3 linked regions of the Homo sapiens genome follow. The protein of the gene in region 1 purifies or fractionates together with the protein of each later gene. This does not show direct contact. Each region holds a gene or a part of one and is shown on either strand. Other genes may lie near its edges.

What was found. The genes of interacting proteins can lie anywhere in the genome.
Region 2: the proteins of RABL2B (region 1) and RASEF purify together in Homo sapiens (affinity purification with mass spectrometry; 3 studies listed by BioGRID and IntAct, with this or other methods). This does not show direct contact.
Region 3: the proteins of RABL2B (region 1) and IDI2 purify together in Homo sapiens (affinity purification with mass spectrometry; 3 studies listed by BioGRID and IntAct, with this or other methods). This does not show direct contact.

The regions. Positions count from the first base shown.
Region 1 is NC_000022.11:50,779,883-50,788,301, reverse strand, and holds the start of RABL2B (rab-like protein 2B), read left to right. Parts: upstream 1-4,665; 5' UTR 4,666-4,801; exon of another isoform or gene 4,802-4,911; intron 4,912-5,007; exon of another isoform or gene 5,008-5,954; 5' UTR 5,955-6,007; coding exon 6,008-6,114; intron 6,115-8,419. UniProt on the Homo sapiens protein: Small GTPase required for ciliation. Activated in a guanine nucleotide exchange factor (GEF)-independent manner via its intrinsic GDP for GTP nucleotide exchange ability.
Region 2 is NC_000009.12:83,053,143-83,060,806, forward strand, and holds part of RASEF (ras and EF-hand domain-containing protein), read right to left. Parts: intron 1-7,664.
Region 3 is NC_000010.11:1,022,860-1,030,447, forward strand, and holds the start of IDI2 (isopentenyl-diphosphate delta-isomerase 2), read right to left. Parts: upstream 3,001-7,588; 5' UTR 2,957-3,000; intron 1,886-2,956; 5' UTR 1,865-1,885; coding exon 1,723-1,864; intron 1-1,722. UniProt on the Homo sapiens protein: Catalyzes the 1,3-allylic rearrangement of the homoallylic substrate isopentenyl (IPP) to its highly electrophilic allylic isomer, dimethylallyl diphosphate (DMAPP).

The DNA of each region.
Region 1 (8,419 bases):
TTGAAAGGTTGATATAATTTTTTTTAAAGAACACTTGCGGTGTTTGAAGTGACAAAGGCTGCTGTGACCAAAAAGCAGGGAAAGGGAATTTTTTTTTAAAAAAGCAAACAACAACAACAAAAACCCCACAGAAAAGCAAACAACAAACAAACAAAAAACAGAGGAAGAAGTCAAACACCCTGGGCTGTGACTACTTCCAGGAAGGGGCTACAAGAGGCAGTTGGAAATTCTATTTGCTTTGCAACTGTGGGTTTTCTGGCCTGCTTCCTTTCTAAAGTATATTACTCTGCTTTTGGTTCATGAAGTTATCCATTTCTGTTTTCTGGAACAGCTATGTATTTTCTTTATCTATCATCTATCTATCTGTTTACCATCTATCTTTTCTGCCTTTCGCTATCAAGAGCTTGGGTCAAGCAGGATAGAATTCCAGTGTATGTTCACTCTACCATTTAAAACAAGAGCTCTTGTAGGCATTCTCCATCACATCATAAACCTGAGCTTTCTAAAACAGAGTGTGGCAAACTACCATGCATGGACCATGTCTGACACAGTCTGCGTTTGTAAGTAAAGTTGTAATGGGACACAGCCAATACATGTGTTACATAATGTCTCTGGCTACTTTCATGGTATAATGGAAGAGCTGAGTCATTGAGAGAGAGACCATATGGCTTGGAAAACTTGAAATATTTAACATTTAGCCCCTTGCAGAAAATATTTGCTGACTCTTGTTTTAAAAGATCTCTGTTTAGAATGCTACCTATTGCCTTCTGGATAGAATCACAACTCTTTACCACAATCGACACAGCTTCAGCCCTGCTTCTATATCCAGCCTCATCTATTTCTGCTCCTCCTCCTTATTTTCCTTCTGGACATGCTGATGGATTGTCAGCTTCCCAGATGTGCGAGAATCTCTCCTCCCTTCCCAACATTCTCACAATCTCCCTCTGCCTCTCAAGAACTTCCTGTCCCATCTCTCATGACAAATCCTTTCTTCATTCTTTAAGATGCAGCCCCTTGGCTCTTTCCTTAAGGATGTCTGTCTGGCTCTATTTTGGGTGACGTGCTCCTTCTGCATCTCCCAGAGCCAGCCGGTGTGTGTCAGCTACAACATTTCTTTGCATCTCTGTGTCATATATCACCAAATCTGCCTAAGCTTGCATGAGTCACCGCATGACAACTTCAGACTCCACCAGCATTGTCCCCACTAACCACAAGGCTTAGACATTCGTCCAGTATGCTCGGGGTTGTGGGGTGGTAGCAGTAACCAGCTGGTGACCATCATTTCTTACATCAGAATCAAATCTGTAGATCTCTGCCATTCATAAGTATTTGGAGTTTAAAATTAGCATAAAGATTTTCCTTAAAATAAGAACAAATGGCTTGAGTAGGCTTTTGGAACGTAGGATGTTTCCACTGGTTCATGTCTGTGTTCAGTATTCCCACATGAATCTAAACACGACTCTGCTCTTAGTAGCTGTGTGACCCTGGGACAGTCACTCAGTCTCCCTCAGCTAAATTTTGTTGTGTGAGTAATGAGGAGAGAGTTGTGATTTGTATTTAGTGAATAATAACAAACAAAAGGCATTTAGCTTTCTGGAACCTGGTATGTAGTAGAACCTCATGAAAATACTAGCTCTGTTGATAAAACTAGACTGAAAAAAGCTTTCAAAGTCAACAACAGTATGAGGCAGTGAAGGACGTAGAGGAGAAGCTGCTGCTGCAGCCTGTAGCTCCTGCAAGCCCGTTTTGTCCATGATTTAGCAGGAACGCATTACCTTTCCATGAGGACACTGCCCACAGAAACCAAGGCCATTCTTTGAAGACAAACATGTCTTAATAGCCTTTACATTATGTAATAGTGTAATACAAATAATAATTTATTATTAGTAATAATGTGAAATTATTTACAGTACCATAACCCTAACCATAACCCCTAATCCTAACCCTAACCCTAACCCTAACCCCTAACCCCTAACCCTAACCAACCCCTAACCCCAACCCCTAACCCTAAACCCTAACCCTAAACCCTAACCCTAACCCCTGACCTTGACCCTAACCCTAACCCCTAACCATGACTCTGACCCTGACCCTAACCCTGACCCTACCCTAACCCTAACCCCTAACCCTCACCCCCCACCCTCACCATCACCCTAACCCAACCCTAACCCAACGACTGTAAGCCGTTTACAGGAAACTCAAGCCAAAACACTACTTGTTTCCAACGTTTTGTTTGCAGAGGATTTACAAATTACACTCCAAAACAAGATAGCCACAGAGCATACTACTTCTCCTCTGAAGTCGCTCTGAGGGCCTCCGCATCAGTCCTAGAATTGGAAGATTGGTGGACAAGAACTGGGATGTTGATGGGGCACTGAATATTTGCTGGACACCAACCTCCTGTTACCTAACCTTACAGAGGGCCCAGATCTCACCTGCCCAAATCAGACATTTTAACACACACACCTCTCAACAGCAGGACTTACAGACACAAAACTCTGAGGTAAAGGATTGTCTCAACTCCCTGGTGTCTCAACGAACTAAAACACTGCCTAGCGCAGGTGCACCATCAACCTTATTCACTAAATACACCTCTGTATATATTCTTCATCTTTGATTGTGGAAATGATATAATCAACATAAAAATGTTTTATAGATTGGACTAAAGACCTTTGAGGTCTCTTCACAGGATCCTATCTGGCGGACCCCCAAATCTGCCAACACAGAGGTCATCCGTAAACACGTGCAGGACAGAGGCCAGACAAAACCATCTCTCTCAGCCTCAAAGTGGCCTGGCAGTCACATGTGGGGTCTGGCCTGTATGAGGAAGTCAGGCTTTCGGCTCCAGGCACCCTACTGCACCGCAAAACCAAGTTCTGCCTAAGAAACAAAAAACAGCCTGCTCACTCTCCCTAATATCCCAGGTGGTAACCTAAGAGCATTATCTGCTAGACACCCCTCCTCCTCCACCCTCCATGTCCAAGCTATCACCAAGGTCCTAGCAATCTTACCTCCTAAATGTCTCCCAAATCCACTTCTCTCCCTTCACTGTCCAGGCCACCAGCATGACTTCTGCATGTGTGTAGCAGCCTCCGCGCAGGACGTAAAGATGCAAATCTAGTCGTAGGCTCTCTGAAAGGAAAATTTTGGGGACCCAAAATTACTAAGCTAAAGGAAAAGTCAAGCTGGGAACTGCTCAGGGCAAACCTGCCTCCCTTTCTATTCCAAGTCACCTATCTCCTCACTAAGATAGGTGCATATCTGATTCCCTGCTTTGGAGAGGCTAATCAGAAACTCAAAACAATGCAACCTTTGTCTCTCACCTACCTGTGACCTTGGAAGCCCCCTCCCTGCTTCCAGTTGTCCCCAGCTTTCTGGATGGAAGCAACGTACTTCTTACATATATTGATTGATGTCTCATGTCTCCCTAAAACCAAGCTGTGCCCTGACCACCTTGGGCACATGTCGTCAAGACCTCCTGAGGCTGTGTCACGGGTGCACCTCTTTCTAAATTACCTGAAACCATCTCAGATAGGGTTCACACATCCCTTTCCCAAACCCTCCCAGGAGCCCCTCGTGGGCGCCCAGGTCCTGCGTGCTGTTGTGGCCCAGGCTCACCTGGAGCAACTCGACTCTTCGTTACAGCCTCGTGAACCTTTCAGTTCCTAAAGCTGTCTAGCCTGTGAAAGGAAAATGAATCTGGGGGCCCCAAAATCACTAAGCTAAAGGGAAAAAAGCTGGGAACTGCTTAGGGCAAACCTGCCTCCCCATCTATTCAAAGTCACCCCTCTGCTCACTGAGATAGGTTAATATGTGATAGCCTCCTTTGCGGAGGCTATTCAGAAACCCGAAAGAATACAACAGTTTGTCTCTCACCTACCTGTGACCTGGAAGCCCCCTCCCTGCTTCGAGTTGTCCCGCCTTTCCCGAGGGAACCAACGTTCATCTTACATATATTGATGTCTCCTGTCTCCCTAACATGTATAAAAGCAAGCTGTGTCCCGGCCACCTTTGGCACATGTCAAGACCTCCTGAGGCTGTGTCACGGGCGTGCGTCCTCAACCTTGGCAAAATAAACTTTCTAAATTGACTGAGACCGTCTCACATATTCGAGGTTCACAAGCCCATGCATGGGGACGTCCCCTGGGGTAGCGCCCCTCCTCCACTGAGCTCACTCGCTTCCCCCTTGTGTGTTTTCTTCAGAAGAAATTTCGCAGCTACTTGGTCCACACCTGTCTGCCCCACAGGAACCTCTCTTCTCCACAGGCACATGGGCGGCGTACCTGCTGGGCTGTGTGGAGAGGACCGGGTTCCTCTCCTGATTCCTGCTCAGTTAATAACGAATGTCGACAAGTCGAGAAAATTGCTCAAATTTACCCCATCAAAGAATTAAAAACTGGTGAAAGCTTGACCTGCGCCCCCCACCCCTGACGTGCTCACCGCTCCACTCCCTCTAGGCGGGCGGCACCCGCTGAAGCCTCGGTACCACACCCACAGCCAGGAGCCCCAGTCCCGCACTCGGCCGCATGCGCACTCCCTGCGGCCCTCCCGCCAGGCGCCGCGCTGGGCAGCCAGCGCCCCGGCGGGGTCCTTCAGGCCTTCGGCCGGGCAGCCTCCCTCGGGGTCCTTGTGCGGTTGCGTAGCAGCTGCGAGGACGCGGGCCGAGCCGGAAGTGGAGTGCGCTGCGGCGCGAGCTGGGCCGGCGGGCGTGGTTCGAGAGCGCGCAGAGTCCAGACTGGCGGCAGGGCCCGAGGGGCCGACCCGCAGCGTCCCTGGTCTCTCCAGCCCTCACTCGGAACCGCACGTGAGGGCAAATCCGCCCCGGTGGCTGGCTTAGCACGCGGGGACAGCCCCTCCGAGGCCTCCCTAGCGGTGTGGGCGAGAGGGCGTCCGGGTCGGGGGAAGCACGGAAAGGTGGCTTCGCGAGGCTGTTGTGGGGGGCGGGACGGGCAGCCTGGCGATGCCTGGACATGGTTGGTGGCCAAAAACATTTATCGAAAGATAGCTTACCCACTTAGATGGCAAGGACACGGACAAGCAAGTCTTCGCCCGTAAGCGGTGGCTCACGCCTATAGTCCAGGGATGCCGAGGAGGGAGGATCGCTTGAGTCCAGGAGTTGGAGGCTGCAGTGAGCCGTGATCGCGCCACCGCACTCCAGCCTGGGCGACAGAGTGAGACCCTATCTCTAAACAAAAGAAAGAACGTCTTCAAGCATGGAGCCATGAAGCTGGATTTGGCTTTCTGTCGCTCTCTCTACAGGGTACAGGTGAAAGGGGGCAGACCCCTCATCATGCTTTCCAGGCATCTGCCACTTCCCAGGAATTGTCTCCCTGGATAAACAAGGCGAAGTCCCTGGCTGTGCAGAAGCAGTAGCTGTGTGGTGGCACAGTCAGGAAAACTCGGGGGCCCTGTTGGTATTTTCTACCCCTGACCCGTGTGCATACTTCTGTCGTAGCTCTCACCACAGTAGACTCTGCTATCATTGTGTCTTCCATCCTCTGAACCCTGTGCAAGGTCTGCTCATGGTGAATGCCCAGTAAGGCTCACCTATTGCTGCTGTCTCATCATCATATCATTTCTATGTGCCCCCCTAGCTAAGAGTCTGGACTGTGGTTACATTCTCAGGAATGTTTGCAAAGTCATATTTAGGTGTGAGGAGAGTAAAACAGAGCTAGACATAATGTTGCACACAGCCTTTGGCACTGGATGCCTGGTGAATGTCTTGTGCAAATGGGTAACGTGAGGAGCAGCATTTGGGGTGCGCAGGACTTAACTATTTGTGTATAACATATTATTGATGCCTGTGTGTCATACTCTGCTACTCCAAGTCTAGTAGTCAATTGCATACCATATCTCAGTCTGGCACTGAGGGAAGCAGTCTGGAGGGAGGTACAGCTGGAGATTTGGTTGAGGGGACTTATCTCTGACAACAGCCTCTTGTTGATCTTCCCAGACAGTGACAATACCCTCCCCTCCCTTGGGCTGGACCCCTCTCTACAGCTAGGAGCCAATGGCAGAAGACAAAACCAAACCGAGTGAGTTGGACCAAGGGAAGTATGATGCTGATGACAACGTGAAGATCATCTGCCTGGGAGACAGCGCAGTGGGCAAATCCAAGTATGTTGGGAGATTAGGGAATAAATACCAGCCCCAGAGAGGGTCCAGGTCATTTAAAAAGTCCTCCAGAGGCAGAGGAGCATGGCTTCTTGGGGCTGGTGAAGGAGCAGTCTTGGCTGGAGCCCAGATGTTCATGGGGGAACGAGGGGAATCACGTGAGCCGTTGTGTGTGTCAGGTGGAGGGGGCAGGTCATAAGGACTGAGGAATTTGAATGTTTCCTCTGAGCCCTGAGAGAACGTGTGGAGCAACTGAGGACATTGTATGTGGTTTGTGGGCTGAGGGATGGCAAGGGCGGGGAGTGGGAATGGAAAGACAAAAGTGACTATGCCACCGTGACAGATTGGGTAAAGGTGGTAAAGATGCTTTCTTGGAGGGACTCTCTGAAATAGAGAAAACTGGGTAGAACTGACGATTGACTATAATCATTGTGAAGACTGGCTTCTTCTTGTAATGAATTTCGGTGCCTACGTGCCACCCGGAGAGGTGAAGGGAGGCTCTGCCGTGCTGCCAGCTTGTCTCCATGAGACGTCCTAGTTCTCACGCCTAGGACTGCTGAGGGCACATGTCCATTTCTGCCTTCATAGCATGACGGTACACTTGCCCCTGCCCAGAGAAGTGGTCACGTTTATCTCCCAAGTACTCCAGGCCCACCTTGGTTTCTACCTTCATTTTTATAATCAAGTCCTTTGACTCAGGTAGCTGTGAATAATTCTCTGGGGGCTTTGCTGGTTTTTAGGCCATCTCCATGAATTTGAATTCTCTGTCTCTCTCTCTCTCTCTCTCTCTTCCCCACCACACAATCACATACTGCAGCTCTGGTTTAGTTTTTTTTTTTTTTTTTTTGAGACGGAGTCTCGCTCTGTCCCCCAGGCTGGAGTGCAGTGACGTGATCTCGGCTCACTGCAAGCTCCGCCTCCCGGGTTCACGCCATTCTCCTGCCACAGCCTTGCGAGTAGCTAGGACTACAGGCGCCTGCCACCACACCCAGCTAATTTTATTTTTGTATTTTTAGTAGAGACGGGGCTTCACCTTATTAGCCAGGATGGTCTTGATCTCCGGACCTTGTGATCCGCCCACCTCAGCCTCCGAAAGTGCTGGGATTATAGGCATGAGCCACCGCGCCCGGCCTCTGGTTTAGTATTTTATAGTTACTTTGACCATCCTCAACAGCACGCCTGTACAGTAAAAGTGAGGGTAGGTGTTGTAGTTTGGGAAGGTTACCCAATAAATAACACCCCCTTTATCCCCACTCAAGTTTAAAAACAACAAAGAATAGAAATGGCAGGCAGGTGTAAAGCAAATTGCCACTTTAATAACAAACAGAACTTTCGGAGAATGTATCTTGGTATACCCAGCTCCCAAGTTCAATGCTAGTCTCTTTATATGCCTCATTTCAAACAGTAACAAAAAATAAGAATCCAAGTAGTTAACTTGACGTCAAAGATTACCATAACATTGGCCTCCACAGACACAACAATTAGAAAACAAGGCAGTCTTCATCCACTAGCAGTATCTCAGGCAAAAGGTTGTCCCAGATACAAAGACCATGGTGGAAACAGTGCATCTGAGGGAAGGTGAGTGCATGAGAACACTGTGGTTCAGTTTTGACTGGACTCAAGAATTACTGCCAATTTTCAGTGTCTCTAACCTATGAATCTAAACTCAGTTGGGCTAAAACACCCATTAAGAGGTTAACACATCCAGGCTGTGGTGAGCTATGATTGCGCCACTGCACTCTAGCCTAGTGACAGAGCAAGACCCTGTCTCAAAAAAAAAAAAAAAAAAAAAAGTTAACACTTGTGTTCATCATATCTGAAGGGCGTCAGTTGTACACGGCCTCATTTCTAGAGAGCAATGTTGTGGCAGTGCGGCCTTCTTGCAGAGTTCAGAAATTTACAACAGTAGCAGCCCCAGTCACCAGGCTTTCTTTAAGGTGCCTTTTTTTTTTTTTCTCATGCAGCATGTTCATGCTTCTTGATTCCACTCAGGGCTCTGTTGGAGGGCTCTGATGACAGCTCCCCTACCCCCTGTGAACAGGTGACCTCAGACCTGGGCACTGCCTCCTGTGGAAGGCTTTTCCTTTGCTCCTGCACATGCCACCTTCCTGAGCTGCCATTACAGGCATGAGCCACTGCACCCGACCAGATTTCTTTTGACCCCAGGTGATCATACTGCTTAATAACAAGACATGGTTTTTTGTTTTTTGGAGACAGAGTCTTGCTCTGTCACCCAGGCTGCAGTACAGTGGGGCAATCTCGGCTCACTGCAACCTCCGCCTCCCAGGTTCAAGCAATTCTCATGCCT
Region 2 (7,664 bases), on another chromosome or scaffold:
GTGTTAAAGTCTCCCATTATTAATGTGTGGGAGTCTAAGTCTCTTTGTAGGTCACTCAGGACTTGCTTTATGAATCTGGGTGCCCCTGTATTGGGTGCATAAATATTTAGGATAGTTAGCTCCTCTTGTTGAATTGATCCCTTTACCATTATGTAATGGCCTTCTTTGTATCTTTTGATCTTTGTTGGTTTAAAGTCTGTTTTATCAGAGACTAGGATTGCAACCCCTGCCTTTTTTTGTTTTCCATTTGCTTGGTAGATCTTCCTCCATCCTTTTATTTTGAGCCTATGTGTGTCTCTGCACGTGAGATGGGTTTCCTGAATACAGCACACTGATGGGTCCTGACTCTTTATCCAATTTGCCAGTCTGTGTCTTTTAATTGCAGAATTTAGTCCATTTATATTTAAAGTTAATATTGTTATGTGTGAATTTGATCCTGTCATTATGATGTTAGCTGGTGATTTTGCTCATTAGTTGATGCAGTTTCTTCCTAGTCTCGATGGTCTTTACATTTTGGCATGATTTTGCAGCGGCTGGTACCGGTTGATCCTTTCCATGTTTAGCACTTCCTTCAGGAGCTCTTTTAGGGCAGGCCTGGTGGTGACAAAATCTCTCAGCATTTGCTCGTCTATAAAGTATTTTATTTCTCCTTCACTTATGAAGCTTAGTTTGGCTGGATATGAAATTCTGGGTTGAAAATTCTTTTCTTTAAGAATGTTGAATATTGGCCCCCACTCTCTTCTGGCTTGTAGGGTTTCTGCCGAGAGATCCGCTGTTAGTCTGATGGGCTTCCCTTTGAGGGTAACCCGACCTTTCTCTCTGGCTGCCCTTAACATTTTTTCCTTCATTTCAACTTTGGTGAATCTGACAATTATGTGTCTTGGAGTTGCTCTTCTCGAGGAGTATCTTTGTGGCGTTCTCTGTATTTCCTGAATCTGAACGTTGGCCTGCCTTGCTAGATTGGGGAAGTTCTCCTGGATAATATCCTGCAGAGTGTTTTCCAACTTGGTTCCATTCTCCACATCACTTTCAGGTACACCAATCAGACGTAGATTTGGTCTTTTCACATAGTCCCATATTTCTTGGAGGCTTTGCTCATTTCTTTTTATTCTTTTTTCTCTAAACTTCCCTTCTCGCTTCATTTCATTCATTTCATCTTCCATTGCTGATACCCTTTCTTCCAGTTGATCGCATCGGCTCCTGAGGCTTCTGCATTCTTCACGTAGTTCTCGAGCCTTGGTTTTCAGCTCCATCAGCTCCTTTAAGCACTTCTCTGTATTGGTTATTCTAGTTATACATTCTTCTAAATTTTTTTCAAAGTTTTCAACTTCTTTGCCTTTGGTTTGAATGTCCTCCCGTAGCTCAGAGTAATTTGATCGTCTGAAGCCTTCTTCTCTCAGCTCGTCAAAATCATTTTCCATCCAGCTTTGTTCTGTTGCTGGTGAGGAACTGCGTTCCTTTGGAGGAGGAGAGGTGCTCTGCTTTTTAGAGTTTCCAGTTTTTCTGTTCTGTTTTTTCCCCATCTTTGTGGTTTTATCTACTTTTGGTCTTTGATGATGGTGATGTACAGATGGGTTTTCGGTGTAGATGTCCTTTCTGGTTGTTAGTTTTCCTTCTAACAGACAGGACCCTCAGCTGCAGGTCTGTTGGAATACCCTGCCGTGTGAGGTGTCAGTGTGCCCCTGTTGGGGGGTGCCTCCCAGTTAGGCTGCTTGGGGGTCAGGGGTCAGGGACCCACTTGAGGAGGCAGTCTGCCCGTTCTCAGATCTCCATCTGCGTGCTGGGAGAACCACTGCTCTCTTCAAAGCTGTCAGACAGGGACACTTAAGTCTGCAGAGGTTACTGCTGTCTTTTTGTTTGTCTGTGCCCTGCCCCCAGAGGTGGAGCCTACAGAGGCAGGCAGGCCTCCTTGAGCTGTGGTGGGCTCCACCCAGTTCGAGCTTCCAGGCTGCTTTGTTTACCTAAGCAAGCCTGGGCAATGGCGGGCGCCCCTCCCCCAGCCTCGTTGCCGCCTTGCAGTTTGATCTCAGACTGCTGTGCTAGCAATCAGCGAGATTCCGTGGGCGTAGGACCCTCTGAGCCAGGTGTGGGATATAGTCTTGTGGTGCGCCGTTTCTTAAGCCGGTCTGAAAAGCGCAATATTCGGGTGGGAGTGACCCGATTTTCCAGGTGCGTCCGTCACCCCTTTCTTTGACTCGGAAAGGGAACTCCCTGACCCCTTGCGCTTCCCAGGTGAGGCAATGCCTCGCCCTGCTTCGGCTCGCGCACGGTGCGCGCACACACTGGCCTGCGCCCACTGTCTCGCACTCCGTAGTGAGATGAACCCGGTACCTCAGATGGAAATGCAGAAATCACCCGTCTTCTGCGTCGCTCACGCTGGGAGCTGTAGACCGGAGCTGTTCCTATTCGGCCATCTTGGCTCCTCCCTCCTCGATTGTCCAAAGTGTTTCTCTGCCTTCCTTTTTAGCCCATGACAATGCACACAGTGTTATGAGATGCCTCACGAACACAAATGCAGGTTTTGAAATTGTGTAGCCAAATCTGTAATACAAAAGTCATCCAAATCTGTAATGCAGGTGATTTGGAATGAGCTCACATCAATTTATTTTACATTATTGCCAAAATGAAAATAAGAATATTTGGTCTCCTAAAACTCCCAAAGATATATGTAAGGACCCCGAAGGGTCTATGGCTCCCAATTTGAGAAACATTCGATGTGAAACATCCATAGTCCAGAATGAGTGGTGTTTTGGTGAGCCAGGAGGAATTTTCCCATTCATTATTCCACATCCCAGGTCCTTCAGGTGTTAGAAACTCCTGAGTATTTAAGAAGGTGAGAAACAAGGTCAGGGTCAGGTGTATATATATAGTGCCTAGTGAGATGTCAAGGGCAATGTCAATATTGGGTGAACTAGAGAAAGAATCAAAGAAACATTTGCACTACTGGAGCTGTATATCCTGTTTTTATAAGACATATAGACTAAGGCCTTAAGGGTTAAAATTCACTCTTCTTATAATTACTCTGACAAAAGCAGTTATCGTTTGGAAGACCCTGAATATTTACAAGTTGAAGCAATGAACTTGTTTGTTTGACAAAATAATTCTAAAGAAATCCTATGTGTCATAGATAAATTCCACCATTAGAACTTCCCTCTGGGAGACAGACAAGTGTTTACTTTCCATTTTACAACCTCATATGAGACTAATACAGTCAGGTGAGGCAGCCCTGAACACTCAGAATAAATATTCTCTTCCCATTTCCCTCTTCTGACTACATACTGCACTCAAGTGCTACCTAAATTGTAATAAGTGATACATGAAGCAAGAAGGCATACTGTGTATACCCTCTTAGGAGAGAAAAAGGATTCAAAACACACTTGGAATCACCATGGCACACTAACCTTTCCCCATATGATACGGCTACTTTCATTGTACAAATGAAAAAAGATTGGATAACCTGGGCAGAAAATAAGAAACAGATGAAGATTTGTACACGCTTAAAGAGATAGGGGTAGTGTAACTGAATTTAACAGTAGTTTTGGAGAAGAATAAATCACAAGTTCAGGTTTGAGGAAAAGCTAGAGAAGAGTCTGTAGTTCTGGGAGTACAGTCTCCCTGGTAACACTAAGTTTTAAGACTTTTTCTTTTTAAGCCTTTTTCTTTTTGCACAAACCAGAAGGACAGAATAAATCATCTTTCTTCAAATTCTGAGAGCAAAGCTCTGAGCAATCAGTGAATTCTGAGGGTCACAGCAGGCCACTGCTCAGATGGCTAACACTGAGAGCCTTCTAAGGACTAGAAGTCCAAAATACCTTTCCAAAATCTGAAAGCCAAAAAGAAATTACTACCTTGAGATTAAATTCAAATATCAGAACCAGAAGTGGCCACCACCCAGCAAGTAGAGCTCATAAAACCTAAGGCATGCACAGATTCACAAAAGGCCCAGGAGGAAGGATCAAAGGTTCATTCCCCCTACAATCTGGAGCAAGGCAAGGATGCCCGCTCTCACCACTCCTTCTCAATATAGTACTGGAAGTCCTAGCCAGAGCAATCAGGCAAGAGAAAGAAATAAACCCATCCAAATTGGAAAACAGGAAGTCAAATTATCTCTGTTGGCTGACAATATAATCTTATATCTAGAAAACCCTAAAGACTCCTATAAAAGACTCCTAAGCTTTGATAAACGAATTCAGTTAATTCTCAGGATACAAAAATCAATGTAGAAAAATCAGTAGCATTTGTATACACCAATAATGAGCTGTAGTTATCAAGAGACAGGTTTCTCCCACTCAGCAGAGTAATGATACACATAATTGTGACAGAGGACACATTAAAGAGAAAAAGCAAAAAGCTACAGAATAGCAACAGTTAGAAAACAAGGAGATACAGATACAGACATAAACAGAGACACAGATGTTAGGATCCCGGTTCAGAATCCAGAAAAGGTAAAGAAACTTCCATAAAACCTATGCCAAGCACAATGATAGATCCCAAATCTGGTACTCAAGGTAAATACCCAATACAGTCAAAAGCACCCTTGAACCTCATCTAGGACTTGGGTGTAGCCCACCACCATGTTGCAAAGCTAGAACACATCTTCTCTTCTTGGATGAGAACCAGACATTACTGGCCATGAGCATGAAAAAATACATACATATATATATCCATATATACATATTCATATATACATATATTCATATATACATATATATATATATATATATATATATTCGTCTTTAAATACCACAAACACATCCCAAAGCACCAAGATGCTCACATGTGGAAGATACTCAAGAGCTGAGATCAAAGAGAAAAGAGCTGATTTACCTCTCTCATCTCAAGGTGACTCAGGGCCACCTTTCTACTAAGTGGAAAGAGGAGAAACTGAGGCAAGATGGAATCCATCAGTCTCTCTTCCTTTCCCCTCCATCTGAGCTCTGTGTTTCACTCCCTCTCAACATGTCCCCCTCTGCCACTCTATCTCTGGCCTTCTCTCTTGCTCTCCGGCTCACTCCTGATGTATTTATGTCTTTTTTTTTTTTTTTTTTTTTTTTTTTTGAGAAGGAGTCTCGCTCTGTCGCCCAGGCTGGAGTGCAGTGGCGCGATCTCGGCTCACTGCAAGCTCCGCCTCCCGGGTTCACACCATTCTCCTGCCTCAGCCTCCCGAGTAGCTGGGACTACAGGTGCCCGCTACCACGCCCGGCTAATTTTTTGTATTTTTAGTAGAGACGGGGTTTCACCGTGTTAGCCAGGATGGTCTCCATCTCCTGACCTCGTGATCCGCCCGCCTCGGCCTCCCAAAGTGCTGGGATTACAGGCGTGAGCCACCGCGCCCGGCCGTATTTATGTCTTTCTTTGCCTCTGTCTCTCCTCTCCCTTTTCTATCTTGTCAAGCACCGTTTCATGTAAATTAAGGGAGCTGTGAAGCAACTACACTATTACAAAACAAGGCAATCATTCTGAAAAGGGCTAAACTAGAACCCAAGAAAGGGAAATGGAGAAGCAACCCTCACCAATACTGAAACTTCGCCTCTGCCTACTGGCAGCTACTTGTTTTTAAAAATTTCCCAATTAAATGGGATTGCTGTCCAATGGGTGAGCCTTTCCTCTTGAGTTTAATAAGGTAAGCCGTTTTGCCAATCTCTATACAATTCACATATGGAAAGTTTTGGTTCCTCTCAATTAAATTTGTTTTTAAATTACCAAATAAAAGAATCCCCTTCGACATCGTGCATGTAGAAACATCGCAAACCATGTGAAACAGCTAACGGTGCTGATTTTGACGTCTCAACAAATCCTAGCCTAGCACTGCCTGGCAGGTCACCCATCACTATACCTGCCACACCCTCAGGTACCTGACCTGAGGCTGTCCCTCCTTTGGATACTTTTGGGATACCTGTGCCCACTCACAGACCCTCAGTGGTTCCAGTGCCAGCTGCACCCTCACATTCCTGTTTGTGAGAATGTGGGGTTTTCTAAGTTAATTTATCAGCATGAATCAATTCACAGATAACACTCAAAATTGCTGCAAATGGGAGTTGAGAAAAAACTGAAAAGTTTCAGCTCTGACTAGAGGTCAGAGAAGAGGCCTTCATCCCTGCTCTCAGCCATCCATCAAATGCTCAATACACACACACACACACACACACACACACACACACAGCCTATTTCCTTCTCTTGGCAATCTTTGAACACCAAGACTGGCTCACAACAGTAACTGAAAAAAAAAAAAAAAAGTGAGAGAACCTGCAAAAGAAGTGGAGAAAATGCTCACAGCATGAACTACACTCTCTCTCAAAATGCAGATATATGAAACAAGAATCAAAGAATACTGATTTATTCTATTCATTTGGCAAACATTTACTGAGTATCTCCTGAGTATGAAACTCCCTTTCACCAAGACAATGACCCAGGCATCAGAAACTGGCAAGGCTACATTATAAGTTGGCTCTCTGCCCTGCCCCTCCACCCTCAACACCCACACATTTTCTTCCTACTTCCAGGACTTTTCTTGGCCTGGTAGCACCTGTCCTCCCAAATTCTCTTATGTAACTAAATCACACTGTCCTGCTGCCTTCACCTGTTGGCTGACCTTATCAAACTGACCAGGAAGTGGTCAAGGCCCATCCTGACCTTGCAGACCCTTCATATCTGCCAGGCTCAGCTTACCCGGTCACACAACTCCTTGGACACTCCTTCCTCAGCCTTCAAAACAAAAAGTCCCTCAATTTTCTAAGAGAAAATGAACTCAACAATGACACATATCCCAAAAGCTACTTTCATCCCTTCATGATGCAATATTATCTTCCCTCTAACATCACGATTACTGATGACTGGCGAGTTTAACCCAAAATTGCTTAATATTTTGCTTGAAAGATTCTTTAAATGAAAATCAACAGTGTCATGCTTTGCCTTTATAGGAACCAAACATTTTCCTATTTAATATCCGTTCCTCTCAAACTGGATGTGAACACTCCCCAGGATAGCCCTGGGGCAGACTGTCCCCAGGGATAAGATTGAGTGCCAGGTGGGAAACAAAGCCACAAGTTGGAATGGCACACCTTCCTAGAAAGACAATTCTCCCTTCAGAAGAAACTCTATTTTATATGAAAACAAGTCCCAAAATATTGTGTACAAAGATGAACAACTTAATCACTTTTTAAAGAAAAGCTCAAGACTTCAAAGAAAATTCTTGCTTGCAGCCGTCTGTTGGGCTATGTCCACAATACAGGGAGTTTCCTACAAATGTTCTTTGCCTTTAAATGTTCTTCGATGAAGTTGCTGGAAAAATGTTTCATCCACACCATGAGCATCTTGAGGGCATGAACTACATACTATCCTTCTCTTTGTCCCCAGCAACCTAGGACAGTACCTAAGCCAGTATTTGGCATATGGCAGGCAATTGGTAATGCTTATGGAATACATTTGGCTGAAATAATGCCGACAGCATTATCAATAACAAAAAAGTGTTTAAATCACATTTGGATGGAAGGAAGAAAAGGTCAACAGCTGTATGAGGAAGTGAAGTAGAATTAATCCAATTTACCAAAACAGCGGATGGCTGCCATGGTAACAATCTGATGCAGCAACTCAGTTTAGATCTCTTCCACTTGAACATGAGAGGAAGACAAATATTGTACTTGTTAATCTCACATCAGGAGGTG
Region 3 (7,588 bases), on another chromosome or scaffold:
TCGTAGAAAAGCCTGTGATTGTGGCACCTGGGCAGGGCAAAGGGGACTGCTGGATGCCCAAACACAACGTTTCAGAATCTCAGCGGATTAGAACACTCGGGAAACTAAAAATAGATCTACCAGATGACCCAGAAATCCCACTACCAGGGCAAATATCCAAAATAAAAGAGATCAGTCTATCAGAGAGATATCGCAGCATTCCTGGGTGCTGAGCACCATTTACGACAGCCAAGATATGAGATCAACCTGTGTCCGTGGAGGTTTGAAGGGTTGAAAACATGAGGGTTAGATACACAGTGGCATACCATTCCACCACAAAAGAAGAATGAAATCGGGCCGGGTGCGGTGGCTCACGCCTGTAATCTCAGCACTTTGGGAGGCTGAAGTGGGCGGATCACGAGGTCAGAAGATCGAGACCACCCTGGCTAACATGGTGAAACCCCGTCTCTACTAAAAATACAAAAAAATTAGCTGGGCGTGGTGGCAGGTGCCTGTAGTCCAAGCTACTCGGGAGGCTGAGGCAGGAGAATGGCATGAACCCAGGAGGCAGAGCTGGCAGTGACCTGAGATTGCACCACTGCACTCCAGCCTGGGCAATGGAGCAAGACTCTGTCTCAAAAAAAAAAAAAAAAAGAAGAATGAAATCCTGTCATTTGTAGCAACATGGATGGAACTGGAGGCCATTGTGTTAAGTGGAACAAACCTGGCACAGAAAAACAAGTATCACATGTTCTCACTGCTATGTGGGCTCTAAAGAAGTTGATCTCATGGAGGCAGAAAACACAATGCTAGACACCAGAGGCTGCGAAGGGCAGTGGGGAGGGATGACGAGAGGGTGGTTAATAAGTATAAACATACCGCGATAGAGAAGGAATAATATCAGCTGTTCAATAGCACAGTAGGGTGACTGTAGTTAACAACAGTGTATTATATGTTTCAATGTGGCTAGAACAGAGGATTTGGAATGTTCCCAACACAAAGATATGATGAATGTTTGAGGTGATGGATATCCCAAAATGCCCTATTTGATCATTATGCATGACATGGTGGTATCAAACTATCACATGTACCCCATTAATATGCATAATTATTATGTGTTTATAAAAAAGACACAAAAATGAAAATTAAAAAATAATAAAATGGCTTAAGATGGTCAAAGAAAACCAGAGCTGGACAGGAGTTAAAGCAGGAAAGTCTGACTTTACTGAGAACCATTTCAATAGGGGAAAGAGACCTCCATGGAGAACCAGCCTAACTGCACACAACACCCAAGGAGCAGGCTGGGGCCTATGGATTAAAAGTTACTAAGAGAAAACATCAGTGGGAAGGGGGTTCTGGCTACACCGACCTAACAAGACCTGCTGAAGACAGGCCTGCGTGATCAGACGTCACCTGGGAGGGACGGGGTTGAGGAATTTAATCAGATGCCAAGGTCAGGGTTCTCGCTAAAACAACCTGGTAGAATTCTTGCTGAAACAGGATCTTACGAGGAAGAGCACGGATGCCTAGGAGAAGGTGCAGGAGCCTGACAAGGGCTTGACCAAGCAAAGACGTCATCCAGGTGCTGCTCCCCGAGCCTTCTAAAGACGGCACAGCAAGCACACAGGTGACCCAGTGGTCGCCTCCTAGCCGGAAAGGCCTAGACTCTCTTCTTAGGTTGCCGTCGGGTGGGAAAAATGGGAAAACCCTGGGAACTGGACAGAGAAAATGGGCGGGGGCTACCTTTCTCAATGTTTTCGTTCAGATGGCAATTCCTCTTGGTGTCGGCACCAATAACCTTATCATTCTCATCCACAACAATCAGCATTTCCTCCAAGCGCTGCAACTGACGCCTGTCAACCCAGTCAAGATTTATGTCAGACATAGCTGCTGGCTGTGACCCGACCTGAAATAGATGCACACAAATGCCTCTTTATGTGAAAGATATTGCCATCTCGTTTTTGCTATGTGTTACCAACCACATTAGGATTTAGCATACACCTTCTCTACAAGTGACAGCAATTGTGTTGAAGCAGCACAGTTCTGAGATATGGAAGGTGAATCATCTGTTTCTAATGTGGTGTCTCTCTGAACGGGAAATCTTGGGTACATACATACTCCTCATGTTTTCCAGGTTTCCTTTAGTGACGAGTTAAAGAATCCCCGCCCCACCACACACACACACACACACACACACACACACACACACACACAAAACACACCGAGGTAAACTGTAGGTAACACTCTTTGTACAAGTTTTTGGGGAAAAGTGCAGCCCTGTGCAAAACCACTGGACCTGGATCAGACGTGGAGAAACACACAGCCTTGTAGGAAAGCTACGTCACCCACAGAAGGGCTATGGTCCTCTTCAGAGCCAAGCAGATTCTTAGGTGAAGATCTTCTCACAAAATGTTTTCAGGGCCAGGAGCGGTGGCTCACGTCTGTAATCCCAGTACTTTGGGAGGCCGAGGTGGGAGGATCACTTGAGGTCAAGAGTTTGAGACCAGCCTGGCCAACATGGTGGAACCCTCTCTCTACTAAAAAATACAAAAATTAGCCAGGCCTGGTGGCACATGCCTGTATTCCCAGCTACTCAGGAGGCTGAGGCAGGAGAATCACTTGAACCTGGGAAGCAGAGGTTGCAGTGAGCCGAGATCGTGCCATTGCTCTCCAGCCTGGGCAGACAGAGTGAGACTCTGTCTCAAAAAAAAAAAAAAAAAATGTTTTCAGGGTCATTTATCTTCATGTAAAACCTTCTCATCATCCTTTTCTACTTTTTAAAAAAATGCATTCACGTCTGTCCATTATCATTACTGTTAATATTTTCAGCAATCTGCTCCTCCTCTTTGCAAAAGGCTGTTTGACTTAATGCATGGACATGAGATACAATAGAAATGCAGAGAAAACAATTACTGAATATGTACAAATTTAGATCATAAAAGAAAGAATTCCCACAAGGTAAAACATATGCACTAACCTCTCTTGGAAGCTGGAGACTCCTGGGTATCAGATGTGGAACTCAATGTGCAAGTTGAACCAGGGCCCTTTTATACCCTGGGGATGTAGAAAGATATCAGCTAAGGCAATCTGATATTTTTGTATTCTTAACAAGAAAACACACCCCGGTCTCTCTCTATCTCTCCATCTCTTTCTCTCTATCTTTCTCCCTCTCAATTGAGGGATAATAGAAAATTGTTTTGACACAATCTCACTTTAAAAAATGCTTTTAGTTTTTAAACCTAGGGTAAGTTATTTTCTACTCTATGGCTTTCTTTTTTTTTTTTTTTTTAAGGTGATGTCTAGCTCTGTTGCCCAGGCCAGAGTGCAGTGGCGTGATCTCGGCTGACTGCAACCTCTGCCTCCCGGGTTCGGGCGATTCTCCTGCCTCAGCATCCCGAGTAGCTGAGATTACAGGCGCCCGCCATCACGCCCAGCTAATTTTTTTGTATTTTTAGTAGAGACGAGGTTTCACCATGTTGGCCAGGCTGGTCTCCATCTCCTGACCTCAGGTGATCCGCCCGCCTCGGCCTCCCAAAGTGCTGGGATTACAGGTGTGAGCCACGGCGCCGTTCGATGGCATCTTTTTAATTCACTTGCTGTATATATCATCCCAGATTTTAAAAAGAAAAAATAAAGGTGGCAAATGGAAGAGAAAAATAATAAACATTGTGACTAAAATTACTGAATAAATTCTTAGGATAGCTGAAAATCGATAAATAAATGCAAGACCTTGGAAACCAATGTGTTTGGAAGAGCTAAAAAACTGTATAATTTCTTGCCTATCATATTCCAAATATCATCTACCAACTAAAGCTCTAGGCCAAATAGTTTTGCAAGTAGGGTCTCTTAAAATATCAAAAAAATGTTTGCCATATCTGTCGGTTCTCTCAGGGAATATGAGGAGAGAAGCACGATGGACGCATGACTCCGCTGACTTTGGCACGGATAATACAGAACAAAAATAACACAGCAGCAGTGATGGGTAATATTCTATAAAAAGATTAATGTGTTTTGCTCTTTTGTCTTTCCATAAGTTCACCTTTATGCATGTAATTTTTAGTTACGTAGAAAATCAAAAGGCTATGCCTGAAATGTTTTCCCTGGAAATCAGTTCTGAGACTCAGGAATAAATGGTCTGTTTGAAACTTGTTTCTTTTGCAGTCAGAAGAGTAAGAATGGGAGAATGATACTCTTTTAAAGATCTAAAAAATAATAAATAAGTCTATGAATTAGGCTTTGAGGAAGAAACTAATATACAATACCGTACCTATTATAATCCAACAACTCTAATAGTAATAATAATAATAGTAAGACAGCCAGACACACATTGTGTCCTTCCTTTGTGCCAGTTTCTATTTTAAGAGTTTAATGTATATTAATTCATTTGGTCCTCACGACAGCTTTCTGAGATAAGCGTTATTTTTTATTATCACAGCATCGATAAGGAACTGAAGCACAGAGAGGTAAATTACCTGCCCAAGGCAATGTGGCTGCAGATGCAGCTGAGCCCCCAGAATCTGTGCAGTTTAACATGTTGGGATCGTCACCACCAAACTAAGCACTGAAAGCTTTAGAGGCAAATGTTATCAAAATTTCAAGGAAGGAATTGTCATTCTCTGTAAAATGTTCTAGGGGATAAAAAAGGAGGGAAACCCTTTGCTAGGTTGATCTGGGTACAAGGTTCTGACACATAAAGCACACAAAAAACATTATAAAGGAAAGGAAGGAAGACATTTTGATTAGGCTATATGCGGAGAATTTTCTTAAGAGAGGTTATGACAACTTTAAGAATGACAGTTGATGACCTATAATGCTGCAGGTAGGAGGTTAAGAATAAACTCTAGGAATAGATGATTACATCTGATTAAGGCAAATTAGAAGCAACAGAAAGGGCTCTAGATATCAGTGAAATATAGAGAAGGACATGGAGGCCAAGACTGGGAAAAGCAGGTAAAAAGAAATGGAAGTGGAAAGAGTTAAAAAGGAGTAGGCCAAGTATTGTAGGTATGAAAGAGAGGGTAAAACAAATACAGCATGTGCTAAAAGGGGTATCCTTGAACAAGAGAGCCATAATAATAAAGAAAAATATCCCAGACACACAAGATGACTTAAACCCACAGATGGAAAGGGCTTGCCATGTTCCAGAAATACTGACACATTATCGTCGACACTGGGGTAAACTTCTCAGATCTCTGAGAAAACTGCTGCATGCAGAAGAGAACAGCCACTCCCAACACCATCACTCCATCTCCTAGGCATTGTACAACCCTAATCCTCTGCTTTCCACCTAGAATGATGGGTGATCCATGTACTTACCAAAAGTCACTTCTTGGGTCAGGTGTGGTGGCTCATGCCTGTAATCCCAGCACTTTGGGAGGCTGAGGCGGGTGGATCACCTGAGGTCAGGAGTTTGAGATGAGCCTGGTCAACATGGTGAAACCCCATCTTTACTAAAAATAGAAAAAAGGGCCGGGTGCGGTGGCTTATGCCTGTAGTCCCAGCACTTTGGGAGGCCAAGGCAGGTGGATCACGAGGTGAGGAGATCGAGACCATCCTGGCTAACACGGTGAAACCCCGTCTCTACTAAAAATACAAAAAAATTAGCCGGGTGTGGTGGTGGGCGCCTGTAGTCCCAGCTACTCAGGAGGCTGAAGCAGGAGAATGGTGTGAACTCGGGAGGCCGAGCTTGCCGTGAGCAGAGATCGCTCCATTGCACTCCAGCCTGGGCAACAGAGCGAGACTCTGTCTCAAAAACAAACAAAAAACAAAAAATAACTTCTTCTGCAGCAGATTCACCCACAGTCACCTACTCAAAGACATCGTCCAGCAATTTTCCCTTTTTCTTCTCTATCATCACGTTTTCTCTCTCTCTGTTGGAATTCTCCTATCAGTCTGCAAGCATGTGACTATGATTTCATTTAAGTAACAGCTAGTTTTTTAGACCTCATTTGCCCAGCAAGCTACTCCTTTGCAGGAACACTCTTAGAAAACTTCCTTCATGCTCACTATATCCAGTTCCTTTCTCTAATATTTCTCGTTCCTTTTCTCACGTTTAAAACTATCAAGTAACTTAACCTAAATTGTTAAGTACAATTGTTGAGCTGTTCAAATTTTCAACTCCTGTCAACAAAATTCCAAAGAACAAGCTTCTAAGATAAGCACTTCCTGATATTTGATAACATAGGTTAAAATTTCTGTAAATATCTTAAGAGATTATACTCAAATCCATATGTTGGAAAACGGTGATGAATAAAATTTTGGCAGTGAGGAAAATAAAAATAACTTTCCATAATAGGGTTATTTTTATCTATATAAATCAAGAAAGAATTAACACTTTAGCAATGATCAGAAAAGATGAGGCCCTTGGTATTACTGGGAAAATTTGGAAGAGATAATTAATTTGGGAGAGCTTCTAGAACAAGTACTCAGAAGTGTTCAATAATAAGTAAAATGACACATATGTAATTGATGTCTTAAGGCTGATGACAGCAGCCCTCCTAAATGAATCTGCAGTTTGCTACTAAATCCATACAATTCGCCTCCTCTAATATATACGTATTTTGAGACGGAGTCTCCCTCTGTCTCCAGGCTGGAGTGCAATGGCATGATCTCGGCTCACTGCAACATCCGCCTCCTGGGTTCAAGCAATTCTCCTGCCTCAGCCTCTCGAGTAGCTGGGACTACAGGTGCACGCTGCCACCCCTGGTTAATTTTTTTTTTGTATTTTAGTAGAGATGGGGTTTCACCACTTTGCCCAGGCTGGTCTCAAACTCCTGAGCTCAGGCAATCCGCCTGCCTTGGCCTCCCAAAATGTTAGGATTACAGGCGTGAGCCACTGCGCCTGGACCTCCTCCAATATTTGGCCAAGCCACGCAATCTTTAAGCTCCCATGTCTGTCCATGATTGTAGGTTTATAATTTGGAACTTCGGTTATTTAATTAATTAAAAATATTCAGATATATCCTGCAAATAAATACAAAGTTTTTGTACTCAGCATCTTTAGTGCACTTTCCCACAAGGAGTTGTATGTAAATGAAAAAAATAGATAAATGCAAGCATGTAAATCAACTCCTATTATTAACCATTTACTTAGCTCAAGTTTATTTACACCTGAATGAAAAGTTCCATTTGCATCAAAAATACATTCGTATACTCTTAAGGCAGTGTCCGGCGCAGCGGCTCACGCCTGTAATCCTAGCACTTTGGGAGGCTGAGGCGGGTGGATTACTTGGGCCCAGGCATCCAGCCTGGACAACAATGGCAAGAGCCATCTCTACAAAAAATACAAAAACTTAGCCAGGCATGGTGGTGTGCACCTGTAGTCCCAGCTACTCTGGAGGCTGAGATGGGAGAATCGCCTGAGCCTCAGAGGTCAAGGCTGCAGTGAGCTGGGATTGAGCCACTGTACTCCAGCCTGGATTACATATATTTGTATATTCCTAAGGCACATAATGGACCTAGGTCACCAAAACTAAAAGATATTCTAGACCAAAATTTTGAATGTAATTTAATAACCTTGTACAAACCCTCTACAGCTGCACATTACCAAAGCTAGTATCACTGTACCTAGTGGCTTACTGCCTCATTCAATTGAAAAGATCAAACTAAT